Regions from separate parts of the Homo sapiens genome. Here regions 1 and 3 are each linked to region 2. The links come from fine-mapping of genetic effects on gene expression. A gene starts in region 2. Each other region holds a variant in brackets. All regions are shown on one strand. Distances are from middle to middle. Region 1 overlaps LOC105374536 (a long non-coding RNA gene). Region 2 holds the start of SEL1L3 (SEL1L family member 3). Region 3 holds the start of SMIM20 (small integral membrane protein 20).

What was found.
Region 1: its variant is fine-mapped to the expression of SEL1L3 in putamen (GTEx, PIP 0.95).
Region 3: its variant is fine-mapped to the expression of SEL1L3 in whole blood (TOPMed, PIP above 0.99).

The regions. Positions count from the first base shown.
Region 1 is chr4:25,450,968-25,461,303 of GRCh38, reverse strand. All of the region lies in intron 3 of LOC105374536 (a long non-coding RNA gene), which reads right to left. Among named protein-coding and RNA genes, the nearest start is that of ANAPC4, 79 kb to the right of the region's middle. RefSeq lists enhancers at 4,234-4,733, 10,168-10,336. The variant C/T (reference allele first, on the strand shown) is at 4,531.
Region 2 is chr4:25,858,323-25,868,658 of GRCh38, reverse strand. It overlaps SEL1L3 (SEL1L family member 3), which reads left to right and starts at 5,671. Exons shown (of 24, transcript NM_015187.5): 1 at 5,671-5,984. The coding sequence starts at 5,823. LOC102723733 (a long non-coding RNA gene) reads right to left here and starts at 7,532. Exons shown (of 2, transcript XR_427503.5): 1 at 6,506-7,532. LOC124900688 (a long non-coding RNA gene) reads left to right here. Exons shown (of 3, transcript XR_007058092.1): 3 at 3,253-3,451. RefSeq lists silencers at 5,438-5,597, 5,648-6,107, 6,378-6,672.
Region 3 is chr4:25,910,080-25,919,365 of GRCh38, reverse strand. It overlaps SMIM20 (small integral membrane protein 20), which reads right to left and starts at 5,146. Exons shown (of 3, transcript NM_001145432.3): 1 at 4,944-5,146. The coding sequence starts at 5,052. It overlaps LOC105374538 (a long non-coding RNA gene), which reads left to right and starts at 5,280. Exons shown (of 3, transcript XR_925502.3): 1 at 5,280-5,355. RefSeq lists enhancers at 4,901-5,030, 5,101-5,200, 5,310-5,859 and a silencer at 5,241-5,420. The variant C/T (reference allele first, on the strand shown) is at 5,955.

The sequences.
Region 1 (10,336 bases), 410 kb after region 2:
TGCTTGGCCTACTGTTTGGTAACCACCTATCTCCTGGTCTTCCTTTCTCTCTAGATTGTGACCCCCCCTTTTTTTTGAGACAGGGTCATGCTCTGTCACCCAGGCTGGAGTGCAGGGGGGCGATCTCAGCTCACTGCAACCTCTGTCTGCCAGGTTCAAGCAATTCTCCTGCCTCAGCCTCCTCAGTAGCTGCGATTATAAGCGTGCACCACCCTGCCCAGCTAATTTTTTTTGTATTTTTAGTAGTGATGGGATTTCACCATGTTGGCCAGGCTGGTCTCAAACTCCTGACCTCAGGTGGTCCAACTGGTTTGGCCTCCCAAAGTGCTGGGATTACAGGTGTGAGCCACCGTGCCCAGCCTCTTCTTTTTTTTTTTTTTTTTTTTTTTAGAGACAGGATCTCACTATGTTGCCCAGGCTGGTCTTCAACTCCTGGGCTCAAGCCATCCTTCTGCCACAGCCTCCCAAAGTGCTGGGATTGCATGTGTGAGCCACCACACCCAGCTAAAAGGGCATTTTTAAATAAATAATTACAGCTAAATTTCAGGCATGCACCACCATGCTTGGCTAATTTTAAAATTTTTTTGTAGAGATGGGGGTCTCGCTATGTTGACCAGGCTGGTCTCAAACTCCTGGGCTCAAGCAATTCTCCTGCCATGGCCTCCCAAGTAGCTGGGATTATAGGTGTGAGCCACCATGCCCAGCCTTTTCCCCTTTTCATTTGTATTCCTTTATTTATTTGTGTTTTCTAATTTGGTACAAAATATGAAAAAAATCTGTGGAGTTTTGTTTCTTTGTGTCATGTAGAAAATGAAAAAGGAGGGAAGTAACAAGGAAGACAAAATACACCTTTTAATGTCAACACTGTTTGGTGTTTATTTGGTGACCCTGAGGGCAATTTTCATTCTCATTTCTTTTTCTTATTGATGTTTCCAACCCTTTCAACAGTGACCATGTGTTGCTTTTGTAATTACAACAACAAGAATCCCTATACACAAAGCAAAAAACATATAGTTTGTCTTGTTTTTAAGAAACAAAGATTAAACTACACTAAAATACAAGGCGATTATCTCTGAATAAGTTTTGGGGCAGTTTTTTTCACACTCATCTCTGCTTTCCAAATTCCAAAGATAAAAAGATACTACTTGAATAAGAAGAAAAATAAAGGGAGCTGTGTTTCACGCCTTCCCTCTTCCCTTTTTCCCATCCTATCTAATATCCCATGAGGGTCTCCAACTTCAGCAGGAGCTAAGAGCCAAGAGTCGTCTGGGAGATGACTTTAGTTTCTTTCTCTCCTTTCTTTTTTATTGTGTGGTGAAGAAAGAAATCATAATCTGACGCCTAAAGAGGATTTCACCTTTGCTCTTGGTTGGACTCTAAATCACATTAGGACAATTAAAAAACCACAATGAGAAACATCTTACACCAGTCATGATGACTACTATTAAAAAGTCAAAAATAGGCTGGGCATGGTGGCTCACTTTGGGAGGCCAAGGCGGGCGGATGAGGTCAGGAGTTCAAGACCAGCCTGGCCAACATGGTGAAACCCCATCTCTGCTAAAAATACAAAAAAAAAAAATTAGCCAGGCATGGTGGCAAGCACCTGTACTCCTAGCTACTTGGGAGGCTGAGGTAGGAGAATCTCTTGAACCCGGGAGGTAGAGGTTGCAGTTAGCCGAGACCATGCCATTGCATTCCAGTGATAAGAGTGAGACTTTGTCTCAAAAAAAAAAAAAAAAAAAAAGTCAAAAATAACAGACATTGGTGAGAATGCTGAGAAAAGGAAACACTTATACACTGTTGGTGGGAATGTGAATTAGTACAACCTCTGTTGGAATGAGTATAGAGATTTCTCAAAGAACTATCATTTGATCCAGCAGTCCCACTACTGGGTAGCTACACAAAGGGAAAGAAATCATTATAACAAAAAGATACTTCCATACATATGTTATCACAACACTATTCACAATAGCAAAGTGATGTGGGTTGATGTGGAATCAACCTAAGTGTCTGCCAACAGATAACTGGATAAAGAAAATGTGGTCTATCTATATATATCAGAAAGAATAAAAAAGAATAAAATCTTGTCTTTTGCAGCAACATGGGTGGAACTGGAGGGCATTATCTTAAGAAAAATAATTCAGAAAGTCAAATATTACATGTTCTAACTTGTAAGTGTAAGCTAAATAATGAGTACACATGGATATGGAGAGTGGAATCATAGACGTCGGAGACTCATCAGCCTGTACAATATGGTGAAACCCCATCTCTACTAACAATACAAAATAATAGCCAGGTATGGTGGCGTTAGCCTGTAATCCCAGCTACTTGTAAGACTGAAGTGGGAGAATCACCTGAGCCCAGGAGGCTGAGGTTGCAGTGAGCCAAGATGGTGGGACTGCACCCCACCCTGCATAACCAGAGTCAGACCTTGTCTCAAAAAAGAAAAATAGTAAGACGCTGGAGATTCAAAAAGGTGGGAGGGTGGGATGGGGGTGAGGGATGAGAAATTACCTAATGGGAACAATGAACACTATTCAGCTGATGGTTATACTAAAAGCCTAGATTTTGCCTCTATGAAATATATTCATGTAACAAAACTGCACTAAGTCTATAAAAATAAAAATAAATGAATAGATAAATAACATTGGGGAAAACATTCTTCATGGAGTTTTAAAATTCAAATCAATACATTTTTTTCCCAAATAGATTGTAGAATCTTTGAGAGAAGGAACTATTTCCCAGTTGTTTTGATATGCCTCATGCAGTCTATTAAATTACCTGTGACAGGCAAACAGGGCTTCATCATTCACTCAGCAAACCTTTCTTGGAGGCTGCACTGAGCACCACCAATTCAGTGAGATCCTGGGAAATGAAGACCAGGCATGGGCTCTGCCCTAAAGGGTTCTCCCCTCCATTGTCTCCCATCTTTGTGGAGGAAACTGATCAGATGGATCCAAAAATCCAAGCTCGCCTCCTACCCTCACCCCATGGGAGGCCAGGCTCTATCCCTCAGTGAGGATTGATAGAATACAAGCAGAAAACTGGCATTCTAATAGAAAAGACAAAATGCTCTAAGAGCATCCTTGTTGATACGTGGGATCCTGATTAGAGTCCTCAGTGAAGCTCCCCAAAGGCAACATATTACTCCTGCCATGTACCATATGGGAAAACTAGGAGGCAGTGGCTCAGATACCAGAGTCCCGATTACTGGGGGCCTCTAGCATAGCTCATTCATCGTTGATCCTTTCAACAAATGTTGACTTATTACCTACCATGGGCCAAACACAGACTTGACTCTGGAGGCACAAAAATGAAAAGCTGGCAGGGTGCAATGGCTCACACCTGTAATCTCAGCACTTTGGGAGGCCGAGGTGGGCGGATCACGAGGTCAGGAGTTCCAGACCAGCCTGGCCAACATAGTGAAACCCCATCACTACTAAAATACAAAAAACAAACAAACAACAACAAAAAAAAAGACAAAAAAAAAACAAAAAACATGAGAGGCTGTGGTTAGTGAGAAGAGAAAAAGAATACAAGCAAGGCCAGGTGGGATGGCTTGCACCTGTAATTCCAACATTTTGGGAGGCCCAGGTAAAAGGATCACTTGAGCCCAGTAGGTTGAGGTTTCAATGAGCTATGATCGTGCCACAGCCTGGGCAACAGAATAAGACCATGCCTCTTAAAAAAAAAATCATGCAAGCCAACAATTATGCAATATGAAAATCCCTGGGAAACAGATGGGCCAGATAGCAGAGAGATTGCAATAGAGGTGCAGGAGGCTTCAGACTCTGGGGCTGTGACAGAGTCTAGCACAAGGAAGGAATGCTATAAACATTTGTGGGAGAAAAATGAGACAACAGACTTGGAAGATGAAGTGGAGGCAGGGGAGGGAGAAGGCATCCAAGCCAGAGGAAGCATTGTGTGCAAAGAGAGATGGAAATTCAGAAGAACCACAGGGGCTAGGAGAGAAATTCAGGGGAAAAAGCGGTAAGGAGGAGAGGCTTAGCAGGGTCCGGAGCTAGATTGTGAGGAATCTGGTACTCCAGGAAGAGAGATTTCACTGTGTCCTGTAGGTGCTGGAGTCACTGAAGAATTCTGAGAGAGGAAGTGACACATCTAAGTTGGGAGAAAGTTTCAGGAAATGAGTAGTCAGTAGAGGAGTCAAAAAAAATAAGGAAGAGCTTTAGAATTCCCAAACATTGGATTTGAAGGATAGGAGGTGATTGGGTCATTCTGGCATCTGTGAGGGAAGCAGGGAGGGAGTATTTGGGGAGGGGAAAAGCTGTAGCTGGGAGACAGGTAAAGAGGGCATTTATTATAACAGGGAAGGTGAAAAGGGCCAAGGTCTGAACTAGGGCGGGGCAGTGTTGACAGAGAGGAGGGGGACAGATGGGCAAGAGATTTAAGGGCCAGAATTGACAGCATTTGGTGGCTCATGGCATGTAGGGAGTAAGGAACAGTGAGGACTAAGATAAGACCCTGGATATGGCCATGGAGGAGGGAGCCACTATGATCCTTGACAAGACA[C/T]ATTTCTAGGTAGTGGTATGGGAACAAAGGATAGCTTAGGGTGCATTCAAGAGAGAATTGGAGGACAAGAAGTGGAGACAGCTGCTTCCAGGAGTTGTGTTAGGAGCAGAGACATAGAGCCACAGCTGGAGGCTGCTGGGGTCAAAAGCAGTTCTATATCTTAAAGGTGGGGGGTTTTATAGGACACTTGTATGTTGATGGGAATGAGCCAAAAGAGGGAGGGAAACTGGTGATGCAGGAAAGAGGAAGCCCCTGCAGGGTGAAGGCAAGCAGGACTGGCCAAAGAAAGAGTGCAGAGAAGTCATGGGTGGGGAGGCAGAGAGTGCAGATGTGTGGACAGGAGGCTGGCAGGAGCATCTTTTCTGTTGGCGTCTATTTTCTCAGTGAAACAGAAGGCTACATTATGAGCTGAGAGTGAGGATAGGAAGGAGGTGTTGGAGGTCTAAGGAAGGAGGAGAAGGTATGTTAGAGCATACCAAGAAAGGGAGCAGGGCCTGAGCAGTGACAACCAAGAGAGGGAGCAGGGCCTGGGGGGTAATGCATCCAGAATGGAGAAAAAAACAGTGAGCCAGGTGCCTGCGGTGCCCATGGATGCATGTGGGAATTACCAGGAGGTCAGCAAATGACAAGGACAACAAGAGTGCAAGGGGGCAGGGTATTGTGGAAATGGGCAGAGCCCCAGTGGAACTAAAAATCCCAATGAGGAGCATGGGGATTATACCTGCTCTAAGCTGGGTTGTTGAATGCAGAGAAAGAAGCTCCCTCCTCTCAAAAGAGCTGCAGGGTAAATGAGGTCCTCAAGCTAGAGTCTGGTTTCCCTTCGGGTTGGGAGGTGGAGAGTTGAAGGGAGGGTCAACAACTGGGGAGAGACTCCAGAGGCCACCATGGGAAATGTTGGGAGTGAAGTCAGCAGTTACGGGAAATCCATTGACATGTTCCTTTCTGATTGATACAAAGGATGCTTTCCTTTCCACTTTTGCAACCAAAGCCAATATATATCTGTTGAATGAATGATATGAATGGAAGAGTGATAAAATTATAAAAGGGGTGGGTCCTGGGTCATCAAGGGTCATTGCTATGGTTTGAATATGGCCCCCAAAGTTCATGTGTTGGAAACTTGTTCATGTGTCACATCTCAATGCAACCATGTTGAGAGGTGATTAGGCCATGAGGTCTCTGCCCTCACGAATGGATTGATGCCATTATTGTCAGGGCGAGTTCATTACTGGGAGAGCATACTTTTTATAACAGTGAGCTCGGCCTTCTCTTGATCTCATTCTTACTCCCTTTTGCCCTTCTGCCTTCTGCCACTGGATGACACAGCATGAAGGCCCTTGTCAGATGCCGATGCCATGCTCTCAGACTTCCCAGCCTCCAGAACCATGGGCCGAATACATTTCTATTCACTATAAATTATCTAGTCTGTTAGTATTCATAAAATGGACGAAGACAGTCATTTAATACCCTTTTCTTCCTCAAACTAAGAACTTGTCCCCCAAATAAACCACAAAGCTCTAATCTCTCCCTCCTCAGGAGCACCAAGATGAGGCAAAACTGCGTCTGCCATTGATGTGCAACTATCCCCCTCTCTCCATCCCTCTCTACACATACACAGGGCACCAAGTCTTACTGAAAAAAAATAACTCATCCAGACACAGAAACTGAGAGCACCTCCTTGCCTTCTTTCCTGGAGAGCAGGCTAGGTATTTCCATCTGAGAAAATACACAAATGTCAAGAAAGAACCAAGCACTGACAGCAGCAAACACAATGAGAGTGACTATTTACATAGTTCCATCAGGCATTAAGATGGTATTAATTTTCCATCTACTTCTGGGTTTTAAATGCCTAACCCCTGTCCTCTGTCTCCACCTTATATAGCCGGAGATTTTCACTGTGTCTAAATCTTATTTGCATCTGCCACCCTTTATTTCAAATCACTGAGACCTGGGGCCACTCACATCCTCATAGCTTTGCTCTGTGTGCCACAAGCATGATGCAGCCTTTCCCTAGCCAAGCCCTGGCAAAGAAGCAGCACACAAGCACCCCAAGAGAAAATAAATTCTCTCCAGGCTGCAGGATAGGTGCCAGATTCCTAAGTTTATCAGCAAAGCCCAGGTGTCCTCTTTGCTGCCTGGCCAGTTGACAAAAGCAAAGAAGAGTGTTAGCCATGGTTCACAATCATCCAAGAGGCTTTGGAAAGAAGAACTGGTACTGCAGTTGTCTGATTGTCTACACCTAACACGTAGATAAGGTTCTGCTGTCACTGCTCTTCAGAGGAAGGAGAATCAAGTGATCCAAGCCACTTGGCGTACTCAGAGGAATCAGGAAAAGCAAGAATAGAGAAGTCCATTCTTCTCACTGCAAGAACCCCCAGGTTCTGGGGTAGGTGGATTGAGTTCAAATCCTGACTCTACCATCTGTGTGATTTTGAGCAATGATGTAATTCCTCTGAGCATCAGTGCTCCAGCCTGTAAAATGCACATGTTAACTGCACTCACCTACTCACTGCTCAGGGTGGTTGTAGTGATTCCATTGTTAATGCAAACTAAGCTTCAGACACCAAAAGGGAGATATTCAATCACTGTCAGTCTCCCTCCTTTTCCTGGTAGTTTGTATTTATGATGACTCTAAACATCACTGATGGAATTTGAGTGCAACCACGCTAGAAATAGGTTTCACATAAACTGAGGCACCTCCTTCGTACATAGGAAACAGGAAATGATGGCATAGGAGATGAAAGAAATAGCTCTCCAGGCCTTTCAGGGGTCCTCTAGCAGGCAAACAAGGCCCTTGAAGATCTGCCTCAGTTTCCTCTTTTTTTAAAATTTTTTTTTTTTTTTATCAGGCAGCCTTCAGAATCACAGCAGATTCAGAGAGACTCCAGCTTCCTCTCAATACACTTTGGCATCCCTTGCACTTAGTGACTGGGTTCTCCTGAAGGCCAGTGCCCTTTCAGACCTCTAAGCCTTTGCATATGCTATTCCCTCTACCTAGAAAGCCCTTCCTTCTCTTCTTCACCTGGACATCCCCAACTCATTCCTGAGAACTAAGCTCAAGGGGCTGTCTCGCCTCCAGGCATCCTTCCTGGCCCCAGCAAAGCTGGGCTGGGTGTTCCTCCTCTGTGCTTTCTACTGTCCCAGTGCCCCGTGGAAACAGGATCATTACATGGCTCCTTGCTGCTCCATCGCTCCACCAGACCAGGAGCCCTGGAGTCAAAAACTGGGCTTCATTTACATATTAGCATTTCCAGTGTCTGGCACATAGAAGCCACCCAATCCATGTTTGGTTCAGTCATTCGACAAGTATTTACTGAGCAGCTGCTAGTAAAGCCTGACACACGGATATCATGGCAAACAAAAAGTCAAAATCCCTGCCATCATGAAGCTATGTCTAGGGGACAGATGATAAAAATGGAATCGAATAAGTATATTACAAGTCGAGTGCCAAGAATAAAAACTATCTTTGGCTAGAGTCACAGAAAATAATAATAACAATAATAATAATAAATAAAAAATAAAGCAGGCAAACAGGGATAGGAAATGTCTTGGGGAGAGGGGACAGCTATTTTATGCAGGATGGTGACAAAAGGCGGGAAGACAGGTGGGCATTTGCACGCAGCCTGGAAGAGGTGGGAATGGACGTGTGGACATTTGAGGGATGCACACTTCCCAGATTCACATTCCAGCTCTGTCACTTATTATCAGTGTTTTTATTTATTTATTTATTTATTTATTTATTTATTTATTTATTTATTTTTGGAGACAGAGTCTCGCTTTGTTGTCCAAGCTGGAGTGCAGTGGCACGATCTCAGTTCACTGCAACCTCCACCTCCCAGGTTCAAGCAATTCTTCTCCCTCAGCCTCCCAAGTAGCTGGGACTGCAGGCGCCCACCACCACTTCCAGCTAATGTTTGCATTTTTAGTAGAGATGGGGTTTCACCATGTTGGCCATGCTGGAACTCCTGACCTCAAGTGATCCGCCTGCCTCGGCCTCCCAAAGTGCTGGGATTACAGGTGTGAGCCACCGTGCCCGGCCCTGTGTGATTTTTAAGGACATCTCCTAACCTCTTTATGCCTCAGTTTCCTCATCTGTTAAATGGGAATAGTAATAGTACCTACTTCATAGAATTGTTGAGAGGTTTGAAATTGTGGTAAAATTTTTGAAATTGTGGTAAAATACACAAAATTTACCCTCATGACCATTTTTAAGTGTACAGTTCAATGGCATTAAGTACACTAAATTGTGCAACCATATCCATCTCCAGAATTCTTTTCATCTTGAAAAACTGAAACTCCATTAAACACTAACTCCTCAATCCCACCCCATCCCCGAGACCCTGGCAACAGCCATTCTACTTTCTGTCTCTGTGAGTTTCACTACTCTAAGTACCTCGCATAAGCAGGATCATATAATATTTGTCCTTTTGTGACTGGCTTATTTCACTTAGCATAATGTCTTCAAGGCTCGCTCATGTTGTGGCACGTTTCAGAATTTCCTTCCTTCTAAAGCTGAATAATAGTCCACTGCAGGTAGATACGGTATATTGTTTATCCACTGATCTGTCGTGGACATTTGGGTTGTTTCCCACCTTTGGGTTATTGTGAATAATGTTGCTATGAACATGGTGTACAGATATCTCTATCTTTCATTCTTTTGGGTATATACCCAGAAACGGACTTCCTTGGTCATATGGTAGTTCCATGTTTAATTTTTTGAGGAACCAATTACTATTCTCCACATTAGAGGCACCAACTTACATTTCACCAACAAGGCACAAGGGTTCCTATTTCTCCACATCCTTGACAATTGTTATTTTCTTTCTCTTCTTCTGTCCTCCTTTCTTCCTTTATTCCCTTCTTTCTCTTTCTCTCTCTCTTTCTTCCTTCCTTTGTTCTTTTTTTCTCTTTCTTCTCTTCCTTTTTTCTCTTTCTTTCTGTCCTTTTCTCTGTCTTCCTTTCTTCCTCTTTTCCTTGCTTCTTTCTTTTCCTCTCTCTTCCCTTTTCCTTCCTTCTTTCATTTTATTTATTTATTTATTTTAGAGACGGGGTCTCGCTATGTTGCCAAAGCTGGTCTAGAACTCCCCAGTTAAAGCAATCCTCCCATCTCAGCCTCTCAAAGTGCTGGGATTACAGGCATGAGCCACCAAGCCTGGCCTCTTTTTCTTTATTTCTCTCTTTCCTTCTCTTCCTCTCTTTCTTTCTTCCTTTCTGTCTTCCTCTCTTTTTCTTTTTTTGTCTCTCTCTGCCCCTCTTTTTCTCCCTCCCTCCCTTCCTTCCTCCCTTCCTTCCTTCCTTCCTTCCTTCCTTCCTTCCTTCCTTCCTTCCTTCCTTCCTTCGTAGCCATCCTAGTAGGTATGTGTTGAAAGGTTTTGGTGAGTTATTTATTTATTTATTTCCGAAACAGGGTCTCACTCTAGTGCCCGGTTGGCATGCAGTGGTGCAATCACACCTCACTGCAGCCTCAACCTCCTGGGCTCAAGCAATTCAAACTGCAGTATCACCTGAATCAGAATCACTTCAGACAATTGTGTTTAAAATGCACATTCCTGGGCCTCGGGACAATGGACTCAACAGCGGGAGCCCAGAAATTGGTATTTTTTACAGATACCTCCCGGGCCTCTTCTGTACAGAGAAGTTTGAGAAAGGATAGGCTAAAATATATTTTCTGAAGGTGCCCATCTCTCTTCCCAAAACATCTGTGGCCCTGAGAACCCCTCTGTCCCCAGGTGGGGAGGATGGAGACTTCAACACAGCCTGTGGAGGAGGCTGTGAAGGAGGAAACAGCCCAAGAACGGACATTTTGGGG
Region 2 (10,336 bases):
CTGGCCAGGCTGGTCTCAAACTCCTGACCTCATGATCAACCTGCCTCGGCCTCCCAAAATGCAGGGATTACAGGCGTGAGCCACGGCACCTGGACCCCAAGATGTCCTTACATCTATGGACACATGCCCTTGATCTTCTGCATCCTGTGTACTTTCCTTCCCCAAACACCCAGTATACAGGGACTTCTGTGGTCGCTGAGCCTGAAATCCCTGCTTCTTATCCTGATACCCCCCAAGGATGGCAGAAGTTTCTGCAACTATGGCGGTGGGGCAGGATGCAGACCTGGGTATGAATAAGGAGGCCCTGGACATCTGGTTGCACCTGCCTGGAAATGTTCAGCTCACAAAGCTTTCCCTCAATGGCCCAAGAGAGCCAGAGAATGGATTTCCCTGCTGCCCACCTGGACACTGCACAAATAAGTCGTGCGCTGTCCAGAGAGCTTATGTCAGTAGCTGCTGCTTAAGGGGGAAAGCGCTCCTGACACAGGGGAGGGCTTGGCTAAGGGAAGCTGCCCGCTTTTTCCCCCAGCTCAGGGTGGGGGAAAGAATTGAGCTGAATATGCACCTATTCAGAAGGGCAAAGAGCCAAAAATAACCAGGAGCAACAGCATTTCATCTGACAGGCCCAGAAATAGAGCTCATTTTGGAGCATGCCTGGGCTACAAACCGAGTGATTCCAAGACCTTCAGCATCCCATAAAAATACACGGAAAAGCTTTCAGTTTACACAGATGCTTCCTTTTCCTCCTTTACCACAACTTCCCAAGGCAAGGGCTCTGTGGCCCATAGGGAAAGAGTCTGCAGAGTCAGGGATTTGAGGCTCAAAGGATGGGGTCTGAGGATGAGGAGATGAGGCTGGTATCTGATGGGATGTTCTATGGAAGGAAGAAGCAAGAAGTAACTGTTAAACATGGAGGATTTGAAACAAGGAGAAACAGAGACAGGAAATAGATTTAGGGAATGTAATGGCTAGGGGGCCACAAGAAAAATGGAAATACTGCCCATAAAACAATGGCATGCAGGATTTGTCTAGATCCCAGAGGTCACCTTTGGCAGAAAGAAAGACCATGGTTTTCCTATTGGGATGGGGAGTGTGTTGCCTGACAGCAATCTTCTATTTTTGCTTTCCTCTCTTCTATTTCTGCTTTCTTCTCTTTTATTTTGATATAAAAGGCAAATGTCACGGTTCATTCATCTTCATTCTGAATAACTGAAATTACAGGAAAGAGGGAGGGGGAAGAAAGGAGAAGACTGCAGAATTACAGAGAAACCTGAGTGTGGAAATAACCATGTTCTAACAGGAAGAGACTGGGGAGACAACAATGAATAAAAAAAGAAAAGAAGGAAGGGAGGGAGGAAGAAAGATGGAGAGGAAAAAATGAAAAAGGAAGATGTTGGATTCAACTTTATTCAGTGAATATGTCAGAAATGTTCTATGTACAAGGCATGGGGGTACAGAGAAACGGTTAAGAAATAACCCCTGCTTTCGGGGGGCATATAGTCTACTGGAGGAGAACAGGCCAACTAACATACCCAATATAAGGCAGAGTTAGCCAGTGGCCACTTAGGATTACAGGCAATGCCTGCTGGGGGCACAGAGAACCGACCCATTGCGTTTCGACCTGAGGCCATGAGGGAAGATTCCCTAAAACTGGCAGCATTTGCCTCGGCCTCAAAGATTTATGTGGGAGGGTAAGTGGATGGAAGGAACACTCTCTACTCCTGCAGAATGCCTTCCTACCCACCTCCTGTAATCTGGAGGTCATTTGTCTCCGCAGGGGCAGATCTCTTTGCCCCAGACATCCTTAGTATATAGAAATGTGGTTACCAACTGCCGACATGGACAGGGCCACTCCAAAGGTAAGTTTTTACTGATCCACAGCAAAATGCAACATATAAAGACAAGACGGAAATAAAATATTCAGATTAAAGAACAGCTTGTTTTTTGTTTTTTTTTTTTTTAAGACAAGGTCTCACTCTGTCGCCCAGGCTGGAGTGCAGTGGTGTGATTAGACCTCAGTACAGCCTTGACCTCCTGAGCTCAAGCGATCCTCCCATCTCAGCTTCCTGAGTAGCTGGGACTGCAGGCACACACCACCACACCTGACTAATTTTTGTATTTTTAGTAGAGACAGGGTTTCACCATGTTGCCCAGCTGGTCACAAACTTCTGGGCTCAAGTGATCCACCCGTGTTGGCCTCCCAAAGTGCTGAGATTACAAGTATGAGCCATGGCACCCAAACCAGTCTTTTCTTAGGATGTTAGGCCCTTCCTAATTTTTTGATGGCAAAAGGCCTTGTCTTTTTAATGAAATGATACTGACAGAAGATAGTATATGCAGTTGGTTTATAAAAACTATTTTTGCTTGGTAAAGTAATAGTTGACCAAGTGCATTGGTCCCCGAGACGTGACTGATCTTAAACCATTTTGGGCCAGGCATGGTGGCTCACGCCTGTAATCCCAGCACTTTGGGACGCCTAGGTGGGTGGATCACGAGGTCAGGAGTTCAAGACCAACCTGGCCAACATGGTGAAACCCCCATCTCTACTAAAAATACAAAAATTAGCTGGGCATGGTGGCAGGTGCCTGTAATCCCAGCTACTCTAGAGGCTTGAGGCAGGAGAATAGCTTAAACCCAGGGGGTGGAGGTTGCAGTAAGCTGAGATCACGCCACTGCACTCCAGCCTGGGCAACACAGTGAGACTCCGTCTCAAAAAGAAAAAAAAAAGAAAAAAAATTTCAGAGTCTCAGAACATCTCACCTGGAATGCTATGATGTGCCACCTAGGCATGCAGATGCAGTCCTTTCTCCAGCCCCTCCCTCCAGGCCTCTGAAGTCTCCTCCTAGGGGCGGGCCATGATGAGCTCAGGACTCTGTGCCTTTGTCCTTTCCCGTGTTGAGGTGTGGAATTGGTCCCTTTCCAAGGGCATGTGATAAACTGACTCACACCAAGGCAGTAATAAGGGAGGCCAATCTCCCCCTGGGGCCTTCGACTTTTAGTGGAGTATTAAAACTTAATTTAAACTGATGAATTGTAATGGTGAGATTTCAAGCCCTTCCATGGGACAATGGGAAGATATATTTCTTTTTAAATAAAGGGCTTTCTTCTGAAATCAGACCACGCCCTTTCAATGACTGACACAAACTGCTGGAGAGACGCAAAAGTAAGAGCTGATTCTGTCTTCTGGATCAAAACGTCCCACTCCCCCGTGAAAAGAAATCTTGACTTTTTCTCTCCCCCTCTCCAACACAGGATGAAGCAGTTAATCCCACCACCTCTAGCTCAGGATGAGAGAGCAACTCACACATCCCTCTTAGAAGACCAAACTCTGGCCGGTTTTCTGCATGCCTGGTGCTCCTTGCAGAAACAGAGCCTTCCTGCCTACCTCTGGAATCCTGGGGCCTCAGGTGGTGCCCAGTCCACAGTAGGAACACAATAGGAGATGAGTGAGTAGGGGAGAAGTGAGCAGTTGGATATGGCAAGTTAGAAACAGTCCAGCCTCCAGTGGGGCACTCTGCTTACCTACACTTAGGTAAACCCAAATCCTCAAAGCTCACAAGGCCTTGAAAACTCCCAATTCCATGAATCCTGATTACAAACAACCCCGAGGAACCATTTAGCTCCCCGAAGACCAACAGAATCTGTGTACAATGTGGGAGGAGAGAAACTCCGGAGCGTGGCCCAGGAAGACAGGTGGCAACCCTAGAAATGCTGCAATGCCTGTTGAAGCCCCTTCCCCCTGAACTGGCCGACAATTTTCCTTCCATATACATTAAAAGCATAGTCTGTATTTTGACCTGATGGAAAAGATATAGACAGGATCTGGGACAAAGCCACCAAATCTTTTGTTCCCTTGGACACTCGATAGAATAAATGTTTTCCACGTCACACAGAAGAATGTTAAGTGCTTTGTTTCTGCAGAAGTGGAACAGAGATAGTGGGAGCATCTGTCAAAACCCCCAAAATGCTTTAATGTGGTGGCAGCTGGCTGGGAGGAGCAGGAGCCCAGTTCCCTAAAAGCCAATAGTTCTGGAAATGGAGGAGGGCTGTTTGAACCAGCGCGTTAACATCACCCAGGAGCTTGTTAGAAAGGTACATTCTCAAGTCCCTCCCAGGACCAACTGAGTCAGAAATTCTAGGGCTGAAGTCCAGGAATCTGTGTTTTAACAATCCCTCCAGGTAATTCTGAAGTTTGAGAACCGGTGGAATAAGGCCAGGGAACTCACACAAGGCCACAGCTCTTAGGTGACCTAAAAAAAAGTGGACGACAGCTGAGGAGCCACCATGCCTGGTGTGGCCAGGCCTGTACTGAAGCAGCTGAGGGCGCGTCCACGCCCGTCAAACCATCCCGGGCACCCCGTCTCACCACCAGCCTCTCCCCGACGTCTGTTGTGACTTGACCTATGCTCGTGGCACAGGGAAAGGGCTGTGGCCTCTCAGGCTCCCAGGCTATTATTAGTTCCAATCCGCACAAATCTACCAGTGCTAAAGGGAAGCTTCTGCGAACTTTGGAAGGTGGATTAACTGTTTCAGAGCAGCAGCTGCGGGCCCAGATAGTTGTCGGAGCCGCTAGACACAGCCAAGCGCTTCCCTGAAAGCCAAGGCCGGCGGCGAGCTGGTGGTCCCGCCGGCCGGAGGCCCCTCCCCGCCAGGCCGCAGAACCCGGGTCGGAGAGCAGCCAGTCTCAACCTGCGTCCCCAAGGCCGAGGATGTGTCCTGGTTTTTTAAAAAGCTGTTTGCGCACTTCCAGGGCCTCACCCCTTTCATTTGGGGCTCCAGTATTACTGTATTGACCTAATTAATTCATTTTTTTCTCAGTCCAAAGTGGAAGCCGGAGCACAGGGATGCAAATCAAATACAAACCCGTCCTGGGTGCCAATACTCTGGACAATTAAAACAAAGAGCGCAGTGGTGGCGGTGGCGGCGGCACCACACAAAACCCTCGGGAAACATCCAGAACGTGCCGCGAACCAGCCGGCAGGGTGGGGCGCAGCCCGGCTGCAAACATGCCAGCAAGGAGGCAGTCCCAACCCCGCAGGTGGACAGGTGGAGGTTGGCAGGGGTCAAAATCCATCCTGAAGGCCTGGGAGCCGGGCAGCTGCGCGGCACAACTCCAGGGGGCACACTCGCCCTGCGCCCTGCGGGAATGGCGCCCCGGCCAAAAAAGCAACCAGACAAAAACCCATTGCACGGGCGGGAACTGGTCTGTGCGACCCGCAAAAGGGGTGGGTGGGAGAGGAAGAATGCGGAAGCGAGGAAGAGGATGGGAAGGGAGAAAGAGGAAAGGGAGGAAAAGGAGAAAGTGAAAAAGAGAGGGGGTTTGGGAGCGCGAGGGGAGAAGGAAGAGGGAGCCGGAGGGAGAGGAGGGGGATCGCAGAGAGCAGGAGCGCGGAAGGGGGGCGGGGGAGGAGCAGAGAGAAAGGGAAAGGGGGGTGCGCCGGGGCCCAGCGACCCGGGCGGGGGGTGGCGGCGGCCAAGGGGCGGGACCCGGGTCGGTGCCCACCTGCGTGGGCGCCCGCTGCTCCGAGGGGTGGAAGCCCGGGGGCCAGAGGGAGCGGCCGGGAGGAGGGCTGGGCAGGGAGGCAGAGGGGAGGGAGGGGACGGGGACGGGGAGGCGGGGAGGAGCCGGCGCTCGGCTGGGGCTGCGGGGGCGGCGACGGCGGGAGCGGCAGTGGCGGCGGCGGCGGGTCCGGAGGTGGCGGCAGGTGGCCCCGCGCGCGGCGGCCGGCCCGGCCGGGGGCGGGCGGGAAGGTGGCGCCTCGGGCGGGGGCCGGTCCCTGCACCAGGTGACCTGTTCCGGCCCGGATCCGGGCGGCCTCGCCATGCAGCGGCGCGGCGCGGGGCTCGGGTGGCCGCGGCAGCAGCAGCAGCAACCCCCGCCGCTCGCGGTCGGCCCCCGGGCCGCAGCCATGGTCCCGAGTGGCGGCGTCCCCCAGGGCCTCGGCGGCCGCTCTGCCTGCGCGCTGCTCCTGCTCTGCTACCTGGTGAGCGCCGGACCCTGCCCGGGTCTTCCCCTCCGCGCGGGGCCCCGGGGACGCGGGTGGGGGCGGCCGGGGACACCCGCCACGCGGGGCGGGGACGCCGCTGCTAGTTTTCTCTCTTCCTCGTCGCTGCGCCCCGGGCGTTCCCGGCACCTGGGATAGGTACCCCGGGCGTGGAGAGGGGCGCTTGGACCGGACTTGCCAAGCTGCTCTCTCGCTCGTGCTCATTCCTTTCCCTCCTGGACTCTCTCTAGACCCGGGTCGGGTTACCCTCGAGACCCCTTCTTGTCCTCGACTCCACCCGGGAGCCTCGCCGCCCGGAGTTCGCTCCCCGCCCCGCCGCGCGCAGTCTCCAGCACCCCCCAACCCCCCACCCCTCCTGGGCTTCCCTCTCAATCTTCTCGCAGCTCCTTTCCTTCCCGTGCCCAACTTCGCCTCTTACTCTCGGCGCCCGCCACCCGCGTCGACCCTCCTTTTAGTTTCCACCGGGTCCTCCCGGCCCGGACAGTTTTCTGCCAACGCACCTCGCATCTCCAGCGCTCTTCAACTCCTCCTTGGTCACTCCAGCCAAGTTGCGGATGCCGGAAAGAAATCTAGTTCTCTGTAACACGCTTACCGCCAGAGTGGTGACTTTAGCTGCGTCTTGAACATTGTCATTTCAGAGAATATGTTTGGCTCATGCATGTCAGTTTGCAATTTGCACACTTCTTGGCTTCTGTTTTAGTCATCAACTAAAGGGCAGTAACCTATTTTTCAAAACCCATTTATTTTAAATACCAGAGTAGCTGAGACCCCTCAGAACAAAGTGGGGAGAAATTTTCTCAGTTCCTTTGAGGGCTTGCTTGCTTCTGTTTTGAGTTCTCCTAAACAATAGTAAATTTACAGAAGGCGACACCCTTCCTGCCCAGAGTAACTTATGTTCCACAATCCTGCAGAAACCTTGGGTTATCTCGCCATATATTACTGTAAATAAATGAAATGGAAAATGCTGAATCATGAAACTGATGTAATAGGAAATTCACAGAATGCCAAAAAAAAAAAAAAAAAGAGCAGTGTCATTGTCCAGAATTCATTTCACTTATGTGGCATTGTCATTATTTGGAGTCTTTCTTTTTGGAAGCTAAAAACTGCTTAGGAGATACTGGCAGAAATTAGAATTTGATTCTGAAGAAATTTGCCACTCAGCCCGTTTCTTTTAACGTTTTTTACTTCTTGAATGTTTCATTTCTTGAAGCAAGAAGGTGTAAAAATGCAAATTATAATTCTGCCTGTGCATCTACCTGTTGAGCAATCCGTGCTTTTACTCATATTTCAGAATTAGCCAATATCAAATTGTGTGGTTGGGCTTACTTCATATTTTCATAAGAAGTTGTCAGTTAACATGAATGATATTTTTTTGCCCAAGAGATATTATTATTTAATATTTATGCCACAAGGTTACAACACACAGGCTCATAAATAAAACTGCCATAACAAATGACAAGATTTCAGTTTAAACAGATGATCCCTGTACACAGGGCCCTGCTGGCTACCCACAGAAGCAGAAGTGATGTAGTAGAGTGTTGCGTGAAACATTCATATACAAATGGGCCGGGCCGAAAAGTTCCACGTGGACATCTCAAGACCTGGCAAGGAGGGGGACTACTTCTGGACAGTTCAGGAAGTCAGAGTCAGGAGAGCAAAGCCTAAGGGCCTAAGTGGACTCTGGAAACAGAGACAGATAATGATGGAGCAAGTATTCCTGTGAAAGTTCTGTGTACACCAAGGGGGATTAAGAGAACAGAGGGAAAAATGATGCCATGGATAGACTCAAGTGAGATAGTGAAGGAGTGAGGAAGGGCTCCGGAAAGAGTAATTTTAGAAAATACTGTGATGTGGAAAATAACTAGAGCATGGATGAATGTCTTGGCAGATGGGGAAGGAATGGATTTGGGGACCTCATGGTGGGGGGAAATGTCAGTGCTTCCTGCCTTTGTATGCTTCCTTCAGATGGACTTCTGATACGCTTACTGTACAAGACAGACTTTGATAAACAAGAGAGCCATTTTGCAAAGGACACAAAAGGCCGACTTAAAAGGTAGTCTCCACATTTTGTTCTGAAGATCTAGCCGTTTACTAGGGATGTTGCTCTTGGGTCTACACTACCCAAGATACTACTGAAGGCAAGGCTTCTTGATCTTGGAGAAGCTTGGTGTGAGAATTGGGGAAAATGTAAATATCCATATGAAACACTTGAAAAACATAAAACAATAGAGAGAAAACGCAAATGTATAATTGTGTGCATTTTGCTCAATCAAGGAATGCTACCTGGAGGAAGTGGTTGGTCAGGGGGATGGGGCTGGGCAGGTGCAGGGTAGAGATGGAGCAGAATAGCTGGGCAGGATCCCAGGAATATGTAGACTCTAGAGGAGGAAAGGTCTTTCATAATTTGAAAGCCTACATGGTAATAACGATAGCTTACATTGTGCTATACATTGTGCTAAATCGTTTATAGGCATTATCCAGTATTTATCTTAGCAACAGCCCTCTGAGGTAGGAGCTACTATAATCTCCATTTAGATGAGATAACAGAGACTCAGAGAGGTTAAGTTAGTTGCCCCAGGCCATACAGTCTGAGATTGAAACCCAAATCTGTCTCCCTCCAGAGCCCCAGCTCTAAACCACACTAGCTTATTGTCTTCTGGATTTTGCTGCTTGTAACTCATTCTTCATCGATGTACGGGCCATTAGCAGAGCTCTAGCAATTAGCAGCTACTGTGCAATTGGCCAGGATGTGAGGTCATGTCTAAAGTAATCTAAAATATACAAAGCAGGAAGCGCAGGCCACAGAATAGAAGCAGGATGTTAAAGTGGGGAAGAAAGGTAAAGCCAGAAAATATTTGCCATCGTTAATGAAGAGATAAAGGTTTGGGGTTTTTATGTAGTCCAGAGGCAGCTGGTAGAGTTTAGCATTTGAGTTTGGATGAATGTGCATACAAGTGTACAGCAAATGTGCCTTGGAATGCATTCCAAAGCCAAATTGCCTATGATTTGGGGACCAGTTCCTGTTTTGTGTTATCTTCACCTATTTGCCTGTTCACAAGGGCTGGAGGTTGAGAGCAGCTTCTGAATAGATGCCTTTAAGCACCTGCCCTCACAGGGAGCATGCTTCCTGGAGTCAGGGTCCTGAGGAGTGGGTGCCTTCCGTCTCCATAGGCTGGGACGGAGTAACCTTCAGTATCAGCTCAAAAAGAGTACTGTGTCTGTAGCTAGGATACTGCCAAAGCATGAATAATTGTGATGAGGGCTGAAAGATAAGTCACGGAACGATGCCAAACAGATTTCTGAAAAGATGATCCCTGGTTCCAGTGGCTGCCAGAAAATTCTGAGGTCACCAAAGGCCAAGATGCAGAGAGCCTCCTCAGAGAGGGAGAGGGCCTCGAAAGCAAAAGATAATGAAATTGCTTCCACTGAGGTCGCGGGTGCTGAGTACTGTGCCCCACGCAGAACTTTCCCTGCCCAACGGGCCTTCTTGCTATTTTCTTACACCATTAACTCTTACCTTCTTCCAACTTGGCTAGAACCAGCCTGAGGCTGCCCCAGCTCTCTATCTGTGATAATGGCACTTCCAGAAAACAATTTTGTTCGTTCTAAGCTCTGGTCTCCAAAGTATAATATTTTCTTATATGAAAAGATAAATCTCAGGATGGCCAGTATTGATGTCAGCTGTCAGTTGAAATGTTCGGAGTGGATAGCTGCACTTGTTAGACAATCAGACTGAGGACAAAGAAGTAAGAGGACATTAACAGCACAGAGGCTGGGCGCGGTGTCTTACGCCTGTAATCACAGCACTTTGGGAGGCCGAAGCAGGCGGATCACGAGGTCAGGAGATCGAGACCATCCTGGCCAACATGGTGAAACCCCATCTCTACTAATAATACAAAAATTAGCTGGGTGTGGTGGCGTGCACCTATAATCCCAGCTACTTGGGAGGCTGAGACAGGAGAATTGCTTGAACCCAGGAGGGAGAGGTTACAGTGAGCTGAGATCGCGCCGCTGCACTCCAGCCTGGCGACAGAGTGAGACTCTGTCTCAAAACAAACAAACAAACAAACAAACAAAAAAATCAAAAAAAACAAAAACAAAACAACAACAACAAAAAAACAGAACAGATACATGTGGGACAGTTAGCAGACAGCGGCTGTGACAGAGCCTTGTACAGGATTCCCTGTAAGTGGCCACACACCCTCGGTCATCCATCTAAGAGTATTCATTAACCCCTCACTATGTGTGCAATGCAGAGCATGAGAAGATCAAAACGAGGTAAAGAGATCTGCAGTTATCTAGCTTGAGGGAGAGGTATTATGAATATTTGA
Region 3 (9,286 bases), 51 kb before region 2:
CTGTCTCAAGAAAAAAAAAAGAAGACACAAAATGAGGTGAGAAAAATAAATGCAAATATATCAGTAAATAGAATAAATGAAAATTAATCCAATCCAATAGTTAAAAGAGCTTATCAGGTTGGATTAAAATATCTAGTTTATGTTGGTTTTAAGATATTCACAGGCCAGGCGCGGTGGCTCACGCCTGTAATCCCAGCACTTTGGGAGGCCGAGGCGGGTGGATCATGAGGTCAGGAGATCGAGACCATCCTGGCTAACAAGGTGAAACCCCGTCTCTACTAAAAATACAAAAAATTAGCCGGGCGCGGTGGCGGGCGCCTGTAGTCCCAGCTACTCGGGAGGCTGAGGCAGGAGAATGGCGTGAACCCGGGAAGCGGAGCTTGCAGTGAGCCGAGATTGCGCCACTGCAGTCCGCAGTCCGGCCTGGGCGACAGAGCGAGACTCCGTCTCAAAAAAAAAAAAAAAAAAAAAAAAAAGATATTCACATAAGGACAAAGTCTGCGTGTATAAGGAGAGAAACAGATAAGCTAGGAAAATATTAAAAGAAATCTGGGCTGGGAGCAGTGGCTCATGCCTGTAATCCCAGCACTTTGGGAGGCTGAGGCAGGTAGATCACCTGAGGTCAAAGAGTTCGAGACCAGCCTGGCCAACATGGTGAAACCCCGTCTCTAGTAAAAAATACAAAAAAATAGCCAGGCGTGGTGGTGGGCACCTGTAATCCCAGCTACTTGGGAGGCTGAGGCAGGAGAATTACTAGAACCTGGGAAGCGGAGGTTGCAGTGAGCTAAGATCACACCATTGCACTCCAGCCTCCAGCCTAGGCATCAACAGCGAAACTCCATCTCAAAAAAAAAAGGAATCTGGTAGCACAATAAAATCAGATAAAATAGAGATGGGGAAGAACAGTGGAGATAAAGATAATTCTTATATAATGATAATTAGAAAAAATTATCCAGAATTTTCTAGATTGTATGCACCTAATAACATGGCCACAGGACATCCAAATACAAACAGAATTAAGAAGCTTGATCTGTAATTAACATACACAGATACAGAACTCTGTACCCAACAAGAGAACAGCCACCATTCCAAGCACACAGGGAATATTTACAAAAACTGACCTGGGCCAGGCGCGGTGGCTCACGCCTGTAATCCCAGCACTTTGGGAGGCCGAGGCAGGCGGATCACGAGGTCAGGAGGTCGAGACCATCCTGGCTAACACGGTGAAACCCCGTCTCTACTGATAATACAAAAAATTAGCCGGGCGTGGTGGCGGGCACCTGTAATCCCAGCTACTTGGGAGGCTGAGGCAGGAGAATGGCGTGAACCCGGGAGGCGGAGCTTGCAGTGAGCAGAGATCACGCCACTGCACTCCAGCCTGGGCGAAAGAGCGAGACTCTGTCTCAAAAAAAAAAAAAACAAAAAAAAAAAACTGACCTGTACCAGGCCCCAAAGCAAGTCTTGACCAGTGTCAGAGAATCAAAATCATATAGTCCACATTCTCTGACCATAAATGCAAATAAGATAGAAACCAGCAACCAAAAGTCACCAGAAAAGACCACTGTGGCTGCTAGGTAGAGAATGGGTAGTAGGTGGGACACAATGGAAGCAGCTCAGTCCCAGGAATGGGTGGAGCGAGGTGGACAGGACAAGGGTAGGAAGAGCATGATGGAAGGAAGTGACTGACCATGCTGTTTGGTTAGGTGCAGTCCACACCCAGCACAGTGCCAGGCACCCAGCGATTGCTAGAATCCAGGTTTCTTCTAAAAAAGAGAGTGCTAAATAAATGCTAGTTGAATGTGTTGGAATGAGCTGAAGATCCGACCACACAGTGGGTTTCCATGACCTGATCATGAACACCTCATCCCAGTTTACTGCTAGGTCAGCCAGCTCCAGGCCTATCCACCTGCTAAAATCTCCATGTCTCACATTCCTGCCCTTGTGGCTCATTATTTTGTAAACATTTTAATAAAATATCTAATATAAGACTATAGTAGGTGTTTCCACACCTGTTACCCCATTTAATTCACCCCAAACCCTGTAAATTCAATCCAGTGAACTACACTGCTACAGATGAGGAAACAGGCAGGGCTCAGAGAAGTGAAGTAACTTAGATGAGGGTCATTCATCTAGTAGGCTATGCAGACACTCATCTCCCCCATTGCCTTTTCTTGCCCCCTTAGACAAGCAGTATGCTGTCTTGGTTTAGGGATTAAGGATATTAATTCAAGTCCCAGATCTGTGACTCATCAGCTGTAGGTCCTTGTGTAAGTAATTTAACTGTTTCACACCTCAGTTTGTCCACATATAAAATGGGGATGATGATCATATAGCAGCTGCCACAAAGGGCTGTTATCAACACTAAATGGGTTAATATATAGGAAGTGCTTAGAAGAGTGCCAAACATATAGTAAACTTCCCACAAATATTACCTGTTCAGCAATATTTACCTGTTTAAAAGAATCAGTTGCTGGCACTGAAGGCGAAAGCTGTGTAAACGCTCTGCCCATTACAAATGTTACAGCAGTCAGTTTGTAACACTAGCACTTTGGGAGGCTGAGGCAGGAGGATCGCTTGAGGTGAGGTGTTTAAGACCAGCCTGGCCAACATGGCAGAATGCTGTCTCTACTAAAAATACAAAAATTAGCCAGGACTGGTGGTGCATGCCTGGATTCCCAGCTACTTGGGAGGCTGAGGCACAAGAATCACTTGAACCTGGGAGGCAGAGGTTGCGGTGAGCCGAGATCATGCCACTGCACTCCAGCCTGGGCGACAGAGGGAGACTGTCTCAGAAAAAAGAATCAGTTACGATCCCCAGAAAAGAGTTGGCCAAATTAATCAAAATGGAACCAGAGGCCAGGCGTGGTGGCTCACACCTATAATCCCAGCACTTTGGGAGGCCAAGGCGGGTGGATCACCTAAGGTCAGGAGTTCGAGACCAGCCTGGCCAACATGGTGAAACCCTGTCTCTACTAAAATATACAAAAATTAGCTGGGCATGGTGGCAGGTACCTGTAATTCCAGCTACTCAGGAGGCTGAAGCAGGAGAATTGCTTGAACCTGGGAGATGGAGACTGCAGTGCGCCGAGATCAGGCCACTGCACTCCAGCCTGGGTGACAGCGGAAAAAAAGAAAAAAAAACAAAAAGGAACCAGAAAAGTGGGAAGGCACAGACTGCCTGCCTTCTAGTTAAAAATGCAGATATTATAGTTACATTCACTAAATGTTCACCCACAGATGAACATCACCTGATTTGTCTGTCTCAAGACATTCAGACAACCACAGATTCTGGAGTATCCCTAAAAGACTGTTGCTGGGATACACAGTACAAGTCCCCATCTTGACCATTTCATCTCAAGCAGGGTTTCTCAACCAAGGCACCACTCGAATTTTAAGCTGGGTAATTCTTTGTCATGGGGGTCTGTCTTGTATGCACTGCAAAAAGTTTAGCAGTATCCCTGGCATCTATCCACAAGAAACCAGTAGCAACACTCGACCCCCCCCCCGCCCCATCCCAAGTTGTGACAAGCAAAAATGTCTCCAGATTGAGCCAAATATCCTGCGGGGCAAAATCACCCCTAGATGAGAACCACAGCTCTAGTTTTCAGAACTGACTTTTCCAATGGGATGCAAAGCAGACCCTTTGTCCCAAGTTCTAGTGGCCTCAATATAATCGCTGGGGCAGGCGTCCGCTGAAGAAGGATGGTGGAAACAGATCCCGCAGGGCTTCACACAGCCCACCTTACTCCCACGCATGGTGCATGCAGATAAGCTGGAAGGCAGAACACAGTGGCCATTTCAGTCTTGGCTAATGAAAAGAAGCTACAAGGAAATCTGAGTGTGCACTTAAAACGCTCTGCCTCCAGAAATCGACTGCTGCAACATTTGTAATGGGCAGAACATTTACACGGAGCTTTCGCCTTCAATTCGCCAAGCTTTCAGTGTCCGTTAATATTCCCAAGGGACAGGGTTGGCCCTCTTCCATCTTCAAGATGATTCGGGTTTCCTGGTGAACAAAATGAGCCTCTAATGCCTAATATTTTCTGTCTGACAGATGGTTTCAGATGTATCAAAGTGCTAATCCTTGCTGAGGTATAGGTCTCAAGGAAGAAGAGTTTGGCTTTTAGAATGATAGGACTGGAATGATTAAGAAGGAAAATTACTCCCAGGATTTCACCATTACCATGTGAGCAATCGGCTTAAAACGAAGGAAACAAGCAGAATCGGAAAAACAATTTGAGGAAAAAGAAGAGAAAACACTACAAACCCCAGGTTAACAGTTTGGGTTTGAAACAGTCCCACTCAAAAAACATCTTGGGGAGTGGAAATGAAGTGCAGTAAAAGCACCTTTCCACTCAGAAGGATCAGGGTTCCATCTGGCTCCCCCAGTCACCATTCTCAGCCTGGGTGCTTGGAGGAGGCTCTGGACAGAGGCCTGGGGTTGGATATATTTGCCTTGTCACTTACTTGCTGTGTGACCTTGGGAACGTTATAAAACCTCTGAGCCTCTCAGTTCCCTCATTTGTAAAATGGGCATGTTTTACATATATACTTCAAGGTGAGCTTGTGCAAATGAAACGATCCAACATATGCCTAACCTGACGTGTAATAGGCATTCAGTGAATTTTAACTGTAAATATGAACTGGTACTTAGCGTCGACTTATGTGAGGACTGCTTTCATATACATGATCACCTGAGTCTCACAGGAGGCTCGGCATTTTAGCATAGATGACGTAGCCACAAACATTCACAGATGAGGATACTGAGAGTCCTAGAGGTTGAGCAACTTGTCCACGGTCACAAAGCTGCACATGGCAGGATTCGAACCCGGCTCTCCCTAACCCTCGAGCCAAGTTCTTTCCACGGCACCACGTGGAGCTCACAGAGGGGAGGTGTGTGTGTTGGGGAGTCAGGTCACCGCAAGGGGTTAGAGATCACTCACTGTACTCCTCCAATCTCATTAGGGGCCGGAAGTAGATGGGATAGAAGGCGGCGCCGATCAGGGAGATGAAGCCGCCGAAAATGAGCGCGGTGCGCAGGTTCCGGGACATGGCGTCAGGCCCCGGGCTGCCCTGACCCGCCGACCGCCCGGCACTCTCGGAAACCAGGTTACCGACGGCCGGGCCGTGACCCCGCTCGGAAGAGGTGGAGAGGCTTTCGCTTCCGGGCCTTGAGGGAGGGACGAGGAGGAGGGGCGGAGCGGAGAAAGAGACAGGGGTGGAGTCAGAGGCGGGGCCTCAAGGCTGGGGGCGGGGCCAGGAAAGGGGTGGGGTCACAGGCGGGGCCTCGGACCCCGCCCTCCGCCTTCCCCGGGATTCCGTGCTGTGCGGGCCGGGCGCTGGCGTTGGATTGAGGTTGGAGCTGTTTTGCTGCACTCGATTCCCGCGGGCCCTGTTCTGTCTACTTTCCTTCCTTCGGCCCGGTTCCTCCCTCAGCACCCTCCAGACCTCCTTTACCATCGCCTTCTTTACCAGCCAGCTTTCTCGTCCATCCCCCGTTAATTTCTTAATTAGCGACTGTCCGCCGTGCGCCAGATGCTCTCTGTCGCTCGCGCAATTAATCCTTTTATCAGTCTGCTTAGTTTACAGGAGAGGGAACCGCGGCTCCGCTGCGCGGCTTTGGACGAGTCACTCGTCCTTCTTGAGGGAGGTTTGTACGTATCAGAGACAAAGGGGCAAATCTCTGGCCCGAGAGGGCCTGCTGGGGGATTCTAAAACCGGAGCTGCGGGGCTTCTGCACCAAGACTAGCCTAGGAGGAACGTTGTTTCAGCATCCGAGCTACTCTCTTTCTCCATCCCATCCTCTCTCCCTCCATCCCATCCTCTCTCCCTGTTCCCTGTGCTGGGATGCCTTGGCCAAGGCAGAGAGCCAGCATCCGGTCCCATCCATGGGGCCACGGGGCGCTTCCGTATTGTCTGGGTGGGGGCCACCGAGAACAGATACCTGTTTCCTC[C/T]TCCTCAAGTTGCCATCCTCCGCCCTCTGCACCACACTGCCCTTACAAGTGGGCTGTGCCTGACTATGACCTGCCCAGGGATACTGGGCAGCTGAGACACAGATTCCTTGGGCCTCCATGCCTTTATAAATAGGAATCATGCCAGCAGCTGGGCCTGGGGAGCAAAGAGGATATCTGTCTTGACCCTAGCAGCATTATTTAGGCCACAACAGATCTACAAGCGTTTCAAAATAGCTTGGAGAGGACAGGTTTCCTCTTTCTTTGTAATCTTGTAGTTGCATCAAGCTACTGTCTACCTCTGTGGCTCTAGAAGCATGTAAATCAGTTATTCAATCTCTCCCCAGATTCATGGACTATCTGCCATGCCCCAAACACCAGGCAGAGTGCTAAGGGGACACAAAGATGAATAAGATGTGACCCCTGCTCTCTAGGATCCTGTCGCATAGATGAAGAGATAGAACATATCCATAAAAAGATAACTAATGACCGACATTGCGTGCTGCCGACACGTGTTATGGTCCTGCGGGCTACAGAAATTCAGAGGAGGAAGACAGATGACTGCAGTGTGGCAGCTGCTCCTCGGGCACTTACAGGAGCTTGTTAGGATGAGGACAGAAGACTTCATAGCACAGAGGGAACTGTGACACCAGCTTTATATCACACGATAGAAAATACCCAGGTGAGGGCTGTGGACAGTGGCTCACGCCTGTAATCCTAGCACTTTGGGAGGCTGAGGTGGGTGGATCATGAGGTCAGGAGTTCGAGACCAGACTGGCCAGCATGGTGAAACCCCGTCTCTACTAAAAATACAAAAAAATTAGCCGGGCGTGGTGGTGCACGCCTGTAGTCCCAGCTACCTGGGAGGCTGAGGCAAGAGAATAGCTGGAACCTGGGAGGCAGAGCTTGCAGTGAGCTGAGATCGCTCCACTGCACTCCAGCCTGGGTGACAGAGTGAGACTCCGTCTCAAAAGAAACAAAAAACAAAAAGAAAGAAAATACCCAGGTGTAGTGGGCATCGTCGTTTTATCAGCCCTGTGGCCACTTCCCTTTTTTCTGTGAATAGTACCCCAAGTATCTTTCTGGGACCCACTCTTTTCCCACTCTTGGTCCATGAGATAACCTAGGACTCCCCATCCTCATCCTACTTCTTCCCAGCTCTGAAAGTTAAGCATAAGGGCCTGACCAAGCTTCCTCGTCACAGGGATTGGTTGGCACCCAGGACTCAGTCTTGAGGTTAGTATTGATTAGGAGTCAGTCCTGAACACCTAATGTAGTTGCATCCTCCTGGCCACATGACCCAAGCTGAGCCAACCATAGTCTATTCCAGCTACTGGAAAGTTGGATTTGAACTTGAGCGAATGAGACTCGAGCTACTGGGGGCCATCATTTAGGAACTGAAAAGGAAGTCAGTACAGCAGAAGGAGGGCTGAGAGGTGGGGAGAAATCAGATGCTAGTGTTGCATTTGTGCCAGCTGTATCTCAGAAGAGCTCTACCCCTAGACTGCTCAGTAACATGAGCAATAGAGTCCCCCTTTCTCTGAAGCCAGTTTGAGTTGGGTTCTGTCTTTTACAACAGAAGGAGTTCCAGATAAAATCTCTGAGGATGTGACTCCACTTGGAGCTGCAAGGCAAGGATTACTGAGCTGCAAGGCAAGGATTACTCTATTTTATAGATCTGGTCACTGACAGCCAGAGACCAGAACTCTCCTGAGGTCACACAGCATTGGCCGAGGTCTTAGCTCTTGTGATGTCTGATCTGAAATGCTCCTCCATGAGATCTTGCTGTCTCCATGAGCAAGCTTGGCAGGATGGCCAGCCAAGCCCTGCTCACGGGCACCTGCAAGCCAGTAAGGAGCGTTGCCAGGAGAACAGAGCATCGTGATGAGGTACTGGGAGTGCCTCTAAGGCAAGGACAAGTCCATTGTGGCAGATGAGCCTCTCCCTCTCCAAGGTGATGTGCCAAGTGACTCGTGGTTTCTCTTGTCTCCTTGATGCTGATCTAAAGGCGTTAGTTGACCAGCAGAAATGATTAGGCCATCTAGATCATTTGTATAGGTAATTGACATCAACACACCAGAAAACAGTTACCTATCACTTACTTGCCACTGAGTCCTGCCAAATGCAAGCTCATCTCTTTGATTCCCGTGTTTTCCCCATTTCTGAGAAAACCACACTCCTCCAGTTTTTCTTTTCCCTCTGACCTATCAATTAAATCAGCAAATACTTATTGTGTGCCTACTCCCATGCAAAACATTGTACTAGTTGATTGGGAACACAGAAGGAATCATTCAATATTTGTGAATTCAGTAATGGTTCATTGAGCCAGGCACAATATGCCAGATGCTTTTCAGGTGCTGGTGAACACAGCGGTGAGGAAAACAGCAGAATCTATTGTCCTCATGGTGTCCACAGTCTGGTGGAGGGATAAGATGTAGTAGAGGATAGTAATTGTTTTTTGGCCACCCACTGTGCCTTGATAAAAACTGATGTCTTTTGGAGAATGACCTCTTATCTTGGCATTTTTGGATAGACTGCAATTTCAGGGGCCTTGTGTATTCCTAATCAATGCTAACATCAAGATTTGTAGAACACTTGCCCTCTATAGTCAGTATCACAGGTTTGCTCACTTTGTGCTCACCAATACCTATGGATAGGTATCCTCATGTTCAGAGGGGGAAGCTGGGGCATACTGAGAATGACTTGATCACATGGCTGGTAAATGGTGGAGCCAGGATTCAAACCGAGCCTGGCTAGTTCCAGATACTGCTCTTAACCACCAATCTACAATGTTTTATGATGTCAGGGAGCTTGGTTGCCTGGGTGTGGGGATGATCCAGCTGGATCATTTGGTCCAATTGTTCTTTTTCTCCCAGAAATAAGGACGATGAAGACAGTGACGCAAAGACGGACAGCATTGTTGGAGTAGCTGTCTTCCATTGCTAATGTTCTGATGTGATCATCGTATACCTCCCACTTGCCTGTAATCCTGGAGCTTCCCTGGTTGTTTCCCCTTGCAGTCTGATTCTTGAGCGTTCATTATATTCTGCAGGCCACCCCATATGCTTCCAATAAAGTCCCTTTGGACTTAAGTTAGAGTCAGTTTCAGTGGCATGCCACCAGGAGTGCTAATAGATACAGAAATTAACACAATTACCTCCTACACATGGCATGGATGAAAGCACTTGGGGCTTCATCACTGTGCTAATGTTTGGGAAAGGCAAAGGAAGTTTGAGTTTGGGGGAACGTATTTGTGTAAAGGGAGAGAGAGCTCCAGGGATGTAGGGAGACAGGATGCAAGTCAGATATGTCGGCAGTCCTAGGGTGCATATTTT